3 linked regions of the Homo sapiens genome follow. The protein of the gene in region 2 purifies or fractionates together with the protein of the main gene of each other region. This does not show direct contact. Each region holds a gene or a part of one and is shown on either strand. Other genes may lie near its edges.

Region 1 (3,662 bases), on a different chromosome or scaffold from region 2:
AAAAGACAAAAACTTTACAGAAATAATTTACATAAATAAAAATTATGAAAATTTACTGAGAGAATTGAATTTTACACAGCCACTGTGGATAACAACATGACAGTACCTAGTAGACTTGAAGCTTTAAGAGCAAGGATTAGACTTTCATTATTTCACAGAGGAAAAAAAATATCGCTGCACTTCTCATTGTAACTTTATAAATAAATTATCAATAGTATATTCCAATTTTGGATAACATTTTCAGACCAATGGACTTAAAGTATATAGCTCTGACACTAAAATGGCATATTCAATTTTTAACAGACAATGAAGTAACTGGCCCCAGATCACATAATGAAATAGGTCAAAGCCAAGAATAGAAACCATGCCTTTTCTGAATCCAGTATTTTTCCCCATATACCATCTAGCCTTTTTTTTTCAAACGAAATAGTTCAAGATTCTATGCAAAAGCAATCCTGGAAAATGATAAAATATATAGTATTTTTACTTATGAGAAAAAATAATGGAATCATGAAAACAGATTATCATCTATGAAGAGCCAGTTGACAGTAGTATTTAAATAATAAGAATAAAAATTAAAATCTAGCATGCCACTTCAGCAATGAAAATATCTGCACTGTAGCCACATGGGGCTATGGGAGCCCTTGAAATACAGCTAATAAGACTGAGAAACTGAATTTATTTTATTTTATTTCACTTTAATTAATTTAAATTTAAATAGCTAAATGTTACTAATGGCTAACCTATTGATAGTGCAGAGTTAGAATGCATTTTAAAACAGTAATAAGTGGCTCACTAAATCAGAGCAAGCATATTAAAATAGTAAGAAATGTCAAATAATTGGAGAGCACTACTTAATGAAAAAAATACCTTTATATTCATCAGGATATTTCTCATATTCCATACAAAATGTAAGAAATTTCATTAGCATTCGCTTTTCTACCATAGTAAGTTGTTTGCTATTAAAGACATCTGCTCTGGAACACGGAACCTGAAAAATATTATGATTTTAAGTTAAGAAACTGCTTCCTAATGATATAACTATTCCAAATTACACTTTTTTCCCCTTTACATATAACAGGATTATCGTTTCCACTCTAGCCAGGCTTTTTCACATCACCGTCCATCAGTACTAATGGCATCTCTGCTAACTTCAGAGCTAATTGTGAGCTTTCTTACTTAATTCTGCCAAGTTACTCCCCATGCCATTAAAAGGCCAACGGCATGTCATCCTAACAGAGAAAAATTTAGCAGTGCTATCTAAAACAAACACTGTGGTTCTCCCTATGTACATGTTAGTACATTTTTATGCCTTTTCTCCAATTAATCTGCCTTTGTGAGTTGATTTTTCAGTGAAACTTCAGAGGCTTAAGAGGGAGTGTTTCCCTTGGCCCCTACAGTTTTGGTGCTGTGAGCAGGATAGCAAAGCTCTGCTCTTCTGGAAGCTGCAGTGAAGAACCCAGGATCTGATCAGCTGTCATAAGGGTAAGAATTTTTTCCCAACCAGGCTCCGGGCCTCCTCCTCTGTGTGGAATCTGATCAAGTGGACAGCAAAAATCACCGTTTCTTTCTTTTCCCTCTCCAAAATCTTGATTAATGGGAGAAAAGGATTTGTGTGACTAGTCTTGGGTATAGTAACTCTGGTGTGCTTTTTGGTTTTTTGTGTGCTGCTTGGTACCAACACCAAGCTGCAGAGTAAGCCATGAGAAAATTAGCACTAGAAATTTTAATTAAGCATTTACATTTGTAAATCACCACGGAGGACTGGAATTTACTGCTTTATGAGGAAAATAACAATCTTATTTGCTTATCTTTCCAAAACAAACCATAATAACTTAAGCTGATGCCCAGTTACAATTCTTGATCAGCACAGTACCTGTTCCACTCGTCCTTCTCGAAATGCAAGAATCCTGGTAATATTTTTAAACTCTGCATATCGACTAACATTAGATTTGATTAGAAGATCAATTAGTAATCCTCGAGAATACAGCAGCTGTACAAAGAAAATATTTTACAAGATAAAAGTTGAAATAGTAGAAAAATTGGAAAACAATAAAGATACATAATTTTGCTATATTTTTTATTATTTGTAGAAACAATCATACCTATAAATATTATAATACATAACACAATCTATTACAGGCTCAGAATTGATTAGCTGAAATTCAAAATTCAAAAAACTTTGCAATCCATAAGTTTTTACAAAACATGTTTAGCAGCAAAACCTGATCCATACTGATAAGGCACTCTGGCTTTGTTTGTCCAAATTAACATAAATATTCATATATTTCACTGCAGAAATAATGTGTTTAGTTAGAGTTCCTCCTCAGACCCTGCTAATAATTTAACCTAACATATAACATATCAGTATATGTACTTCATTACTTTCTAAAATATATTTTTTTAATCTTAATGATAGAATACACCAGGCCCTGAGGGTTTTGGATAAGAATCTATAGTCTTACACAAAGCCAGGTAGTTATAAGAAGAAATCAGTCCAGTGAACCTCCCTACCCCATCAAAAAAAGAAAAAAATATTTGTGATGCATTTACACTGAAAAAGTCAAATTATAAGGTACTTCTGTAATTCTAGAAGTCTGGGTTTATATGAGATATGTCTTTCTCAAAAAGTGAAGATGATGATTATTGCTGGCATGTATGGGAGAAATTGATTTAATCTTTCAACATCTCATAAGTAATATCAGAGAGATAAAATCAATAATGTAAACAGTATTATCTAGCATGTTAACCGTATGGTTAAATGCAACAGATTTGACTATTTCCTATATTAAGATACTCTTAATGCCTATAACTCAATAAATATTAAAAATGAATGTTACATCTATAATAAATAAATGGGAAAATTAGCTTTACTATACAAAGAAAAAGGAATCTCAAAAATCAATCTAAACCATTAGTCTGAGCAACTAATAAGTCAGTAAAGACTATCAGTAAATCAATACCATTCAAGTAAAATTTTATAAACTAATAGTTCAGCATTCTGCAAAACAAAATTGACATCACTTTTTTGAAGCTAATCTGATCATCCTGATTAAATATGGCACGTTACTTCATTACCCTCTTCCTAACACACTACATTACTGAAAGAGACCATGTTTTAAAGAATATATTGCCAATTCTTAACTCTATAATAATGATAAAAAATAGTTACTTCAAAAATCACTTGTTTAAAAAGATACACATTTGAGACTCAAGGATCCCTGCATAGCCATAATAATGTCACAAACATTAAGATATAAAATATGAAACTGCATTTTTATTTAATAAGATCCAATAAACCTTAAGGTTTAATGCCAGCTTGAAAAATAATGCATTTAAGATATCACAAGAACAAAAACAAATTTCAATTAAAATTATACTAGATTTTTGTTTCTGAAGCTCACAAATAATAAATGTGTACATATCAGAATCTAAGCCTCTTTTTCTTTTTTTTTTATTGAGACAGAGTCTCTCTGCTGCTCAGGCTGGAGTGCAGTGGCTCAATCTCAGCTCACTGCAACCTCTGTCTCCTAGGTTCAAGCGATTCTCCTGCCTCAGCCTCCCGAGTAGCTGGCATTACAGGAATGCAATGCCACGCCCAGCTAATTTTTTGTATTTTTAGTAGCACACAGGGTTTCACCATGTTGGTCAGGCTGGTCTCG
Region 2 (2,450 bases):
TTTTGGACAGCTGCTGGCAGCTCACACTGGTCCCAAGGTCACTGCAGGGGTGAGGTGGAGGGAGACGCTGGATCCTGGGAAGAGGAACTCCATGCCACACATTTTGCTGTCCCTGGCATTTCCCCACTGGGCCCTCCTCCGGTGTCAGTTTAGGGTGGAGACATCTGGCATCACCAACATCCACTGGGCAAGTCACCCTCGTCAGGACCCCAGGGGAGGGGAGGCCCTGGCAGGAGACAAAGTGATGAACCCTGGCCACTGCTCTTGGCTCCCATCCCCATCAGGGGACGCCCGCAGGCCTGAGGTCCTAGGACCCAGGAGTTTAAAGTCAAGGACAAGCGGCAGCCTTCCATCCCTCCCTGCCACAGGGGCAGCTTGACCAGGGCCCACCCCAACTGCGCTGGCTGACTTCCACGCTGCCCTTGGCAGGTGCTGGGGTCCTCTCGCTTCCTGTGGGGTGGGCTGGGGAGACGGGGGGTCTGGCCTGCATTGGGGAACGTGCAGCGAGAGGGGCCTCAGCCTAGGAGCTGGCGCCTGGCGGAAAAGAAAGAAGACAGAGGCGCAGCGGCAGGTTTCTGTACAGGAAGTCAGATTATACATTTCAGTAACGGGCGGGGTGACGGGGACGGGGCAACAGCGCAGGGGCCACAGGGAGAAGAAGAGATCGAGAGCTGGGGTTTGGCGTAAATCTTACAAAGTGTATAAAGAATCTGTGTTTCTCTACATTAACAAAAACCAAAGGCTACAAGAGCGGTTGTATATACAAAACACGGAGATATTGCTTCACTTGCAAACAGGTTCCAGACCAGATGGGGAGACGAGACAGAGGAGGGGGACAGGGAGGGCCGAGAGGGCGCGTTGCGTGCAGGAGAGGGGAGGGGAGAGGGGAGAGGGGGGGACGGGCTTCTCCCTGCATCAATCAACAGGCAGAGGTGGGAGGCCTGTGCGAGCTGCTGTGTGCGGAGGAGCGGGTGGGCGCTGAGAGCCCGGGGGGTCCGCCTGCCCCGGCCCCCGCTGCCTGGTTCTTCGGGCTTTGGCCCAGAGCACGGTTCTGGGTGGGGACGACGGGCTGGCTGGGCCACCCGGTCACGGAGGGAGGGAGGCAATCGCTCCCTAGAGTCGGCCAAGGAAAAGGGGAGAAGGCGGCGCCGTCCGCCCGTCCTCCTCGCCTCTGGCCAGCCCCGTCCATCCTGCCGCCCTCCCCACCCCGCCAAGACGCTGTGGGGACCCGAGTTTCATGGGTGCAGCAAACCGGGGCTTCTAGCTTTTCCCCGGGCAGGACGGGGTAGCACTGGCTCCTGTCCTTCCTGGGCCCCGGCCCGGCCGTGCAGAGCTCACTGGGAGGGCTGGAACGAGCCGGCCACAGAGGGACAGCAGGGAGGGGCCAGAGGATACCGTGGCGGGGGCGGGCGGAGGACGTGCACGCACGCTGGGTGGAGGCGCAGGGGTCACAGGTTCTGGCAGCACTGCAGCTTGTTGGGCTTCTGTCCGTCCGTGGTGGGCGGCACGCTGATGTCCACCACGTTGTTCCCCGGGGACTCGTCGTGGGCAGCGCGGTCTGCGATCTGTTTCTGTGACACGATGCGGTAGATCTCTGCAAAGGGGGTACAGGGGGACGTGGGGTGAGCCAGCACGTGCCCTGCCTGCCGAGGGGAACCCCTCCCTGCAGGACTCCAGAGGCCCTCTCCAGACCCCCACAGCGCCCCCATCACATCAGGGGTAACAAGGACAGGGGCTGCGCACCCAGCCAGGACCCACATCTGGTCACAGCCAGCCCCGGCCTCTCGCTCCCTAAGATCAGAAGCGCCCTCCTCCCTCAGAGGTAAACTCCCAGAAGCCAAAAGGCTCCAGGTCCCTGAGGCTACCCGCCTCCCCGCAGCGCCAAGAGTTAAGGCAGGGCCCATCCCCAGGAACTGGGGCCAGGGGGTCTCTGTGTCCCCAGTGCCAGCAAGGGCTAGACCTGGTCTGACCCTGTGAAGTGTCCAGGTGGACCGGCAGGTTTAAAAAGCAAAGGTTAGGGGTGGTGGTGGAAAAAAATCAAACAGGCCAGGTGCAGTGGCTCACGCCTGTAATCCCAGCACTTTGGGAGGCTGAGGCAGGAGGATCACTTGAGCCCAGGAGTTCGAGATCAACCTGGACAACATTGTGAAATCCTGTCTCTACTAAAAATTACAAAAATTAGCGGGTGTGGTGGCAGGCACCTGTAATCCCAGCTACTCGGGAGGCTGAGGCAGGAGAATTGCCTGAACCTGGAAGGCGGAGGTTGCAGTAAGCTGAGATCGAGCCACCACACTCCAGCCTGGGCAAAGAGCAAAAATCCATCCTGCCCCGACAAAAAAAAGAAAAAAACAAGCAAACGAACAAAACAAGCGAAGGTTCAGAGGCCGTGTTCCACCCTGCCTGGCTGGTGCCCTACCCACACCCATCTGGTCCCCGGCCACCTGTGAGGA
Region 3 (2,480 bases), on a different chromosome or scaffold from region 2:
TGGAACCCTCTCTGTTTCTGTGTCTACATCATTCATTCTCTCTCTTTCTCTCACCCTCTCCACCTCCTACTTCTTCTCCCTCTTCTTCCAGCTTGGCTTCCTTTGCTTCTCTGTTCCTGGGGACAAAGATGAGTATGGCCATGCACAGAGACACTGACACGGGCAGAGACCAACTAGACGCTCCCATTGTCAGTTTCAAATTCCTGGGAGAGGGACTCTGATTGGTCCATCTTGGACCAGCTGTTCTCCCTGGCCCAATCAGTTATGGCCTAGAAGGTTGGGATTCTGCAGCACAAACATGGCAGCTGCCACAATCCACAATTCCAAATTCACATTAGGGCAGTTTCCAGAGCACGTTGCCAGAGTGAGTTCTGCGGATGCTCCCAAAGGCACCTGGCTAACCGGTTCTTCCCAGCCCCTTTAGCCAGTTACCTTCTCATTGCACAGGAAAGGGTGAGTAGCTATTGACAAGGCTGTCTAAAACACAAACCTAGGTCCTGCAGGTAGAGTAGAGGTGTGGGGTGGGAGCCCAGTGATGAAGTGCTGCTTCCCCTTTGGACTGCAGGTGAACATGCTGGTGCTGGGGAAGCACCTGGGCATCCCCAAGCCCTTTGGGCCCATCATCAATGGCTGCTGCTGCCTGGAGGAGAAGGTGCGGTCCCTGCTGGAGCCGCTGGGCCTCCACTGCACCTTCATTGATGACTTCACTCCATACCACATGCTGCATGGGGAGGTGCACTGTGGCACCAATGTGTGCAGAAAGCCCTTCTCTTTCAAGTGGTGGAACATGGTGCCCTGAGACAGCTCCCACCCACCATCCTGTCCCCCTGGGGCGGGCATTGGCCCAGGTGGTGGAGACAGAGACAGGCCCCTGAACGATAAGCACCAAGAGACCCCAAGGCTCCAGATGGAACACTGAGGGTGACCGTCCCTCTCAGAAGCCTTTTCCCTGGAAGTGTCCATGCCTCACCTGCAACCCATGTGGTTCTCAGACTTGAATCTTCTCGGCCCCCCAAAAAGAAGGACCTCATTTCTTATAGCCTCTCCTGTGATTCAACACAACCCATGGAGATGTCCCCTTCTCACTCTGAAATCATCCATTTGGGGACAAATCCACATTGGGGTCTAGAAACATCCACGTATCTCATCAGCCATCTTGTCCTGTGCATCCTAACAGAGGAAGGATCCATGATTCTGCTTTGGTCCAATTGCTTCCTCTCTGCAGAGGAACAACCCTAAAACCAGACCACTCCACGCAGGACAGGCAGGAGAGATTCTTCCTAAAGCCTCCCCCATAAAAAGGGAGCTGTGGATCCACTTAGATCAGGGCGGAACCATCTTTCACCCGGCCAAGCTCCTGCCCAGATGTTGACCCTCACCCAGCGTGAGCTGTCACATAGTAGGAGCTTCTAGATGCATGTGGAAGCAATGAGAGTTGTCCCTTAGCCTTATAAACTCCCCATGATCTGACATGCAGAAATCCAGCCTTGTCCAGAATCCTCCTGGAATTTCTTGGAGACGAAAGTATCTGGGGGATTGTTGGGTACTAGGGAGACTGGGTACAAGGGTGAAAAGTAGTTCCCATAATACACATGGTTGACTATGGTGATCCACCTTGTGATGGTTAATATTAGGTGTCTGGAGAAGGTTGCTTCATTGGCCCTGGGACTTCTCTCTGCAGGAGGAGAGAACGCTGCCTCTCCTCTGGATTGGTCTCAGGCTCTCTGTTGGCCTTTGGTCAGCGTTTCCACATCCTGCTCTGCTGCAGGAGAGGGGGCTAAGGGGCTGGATCCACCAAGGCAGCTCACAGCGGGAAAACTCTGGGAATGAACCACTGAATTCAGGGGATGGGGGTGGGGGGGCGGTTCTCGAGGTGTGTGCCAGCTACACGTGTGTTCTGTATGGGTCCAGCTGCGTTTCCATCACTCGCTAATAAATCAACAGAAACACAAATGGCTTGGCTCTCATGTTGACCCTTCTTTGAGCTTAGAATGAGACAGCAAAGAGAGAGGACTTTCTTGCAGCTGAAGCATTTGCTTTCTTGACCCCCAAGAATTTGGGGCTGACATCCCAAATTTTGATAAGACTGAGATTGCCTTGTCTTGGCCAGAGGATGGGTTAGGACTGCCATGGACACCTGTAATGATATGGACACATAAAAGCAAGCCTGGGGGTAAAATGCCAGGCTACCAGGACAAGTGAGCATGGCAAGGCTAGGGGCCGGGCTGTGGCTGGAGGTTGCACTGTGGAAGGATGGGCAATGGGGAGCATGTGGAGGCCTTTTGTGTGTCCTTAGCAGCATCCTCCTTCCGCCTGCAAGAGGCTGCGGGAAGCCTTACTTCAGAGCACTCGGGCACTGTCCCTCTGCCCTCCACCCTCCCAACCCCTTTATTTTCCCTCAAGGCGCAAAACACAGAAACACACTCAAGCTCACCCCGGGCTGGGTGGCTAGAGCTGTGTAGGTTTCTCCAGTGCTGCCT

What was found.
Region 1: the proteins of RAB11B (region 2) and CHM purify together in Homo sapiens (affinity purification with mass spectrometry; 4 studies listed by BioGRID and IntAct, with this or other methods). This does not show direct contact.
Region 3: the proteins of RAB11B (region 2) and PADI3 purify together in Homo sapiens (affinity purification with mass spectrometry; 2 studies listed by BioGRID and IntAct, with this or other methods). This does not show direct contact.

Annotation. Positions count from the first base shown.
Region 1 is NC_000023.11:85,956,985-85,960,646, forward strand, and holds part of CHM (rab proteins geranylgeranyltransferase component A 1), read right to left. Parts: intron 1,994-3,662; coding exon 1,877-1,993; intron 992-1,876; coding exon 871-991; intron 1-870. UniProt on the Homo sapiens protein: Substrate-binding subunit of the Rab geranylgeranyltransferase (GGTase) complex.
Region 2 is NC_000019.10:8,402,557-8,405,006, reverse strand, and holds the end of RAB11B (ras-related protein Rab-11B), read right to left. Parts: coding exon 2,442-2,450; intron 1,595-2,441; coding exon 1,449-1,594; 3' UTR 573-1,448; downstream 1-572. UniProt on the Homo sapiens protein: The small GTPases Rab are key regulators of intracellular membrane trafficking, from the formation of transport vesicles to their fusion with membranes.
Region 3 is NC_000001.11:17,282,281-17,284,760, forward strand, and holds the end of PADI3 (protein-arginine deiminase type-3), read left to right. Parts: intron 1-565; coding exon 566-799; 3' UTR 800-1,953; downstream 1,954-2,480. UniProt on the Homo sapiens protein: Catalyzes the deimination of arginine residues of proteins.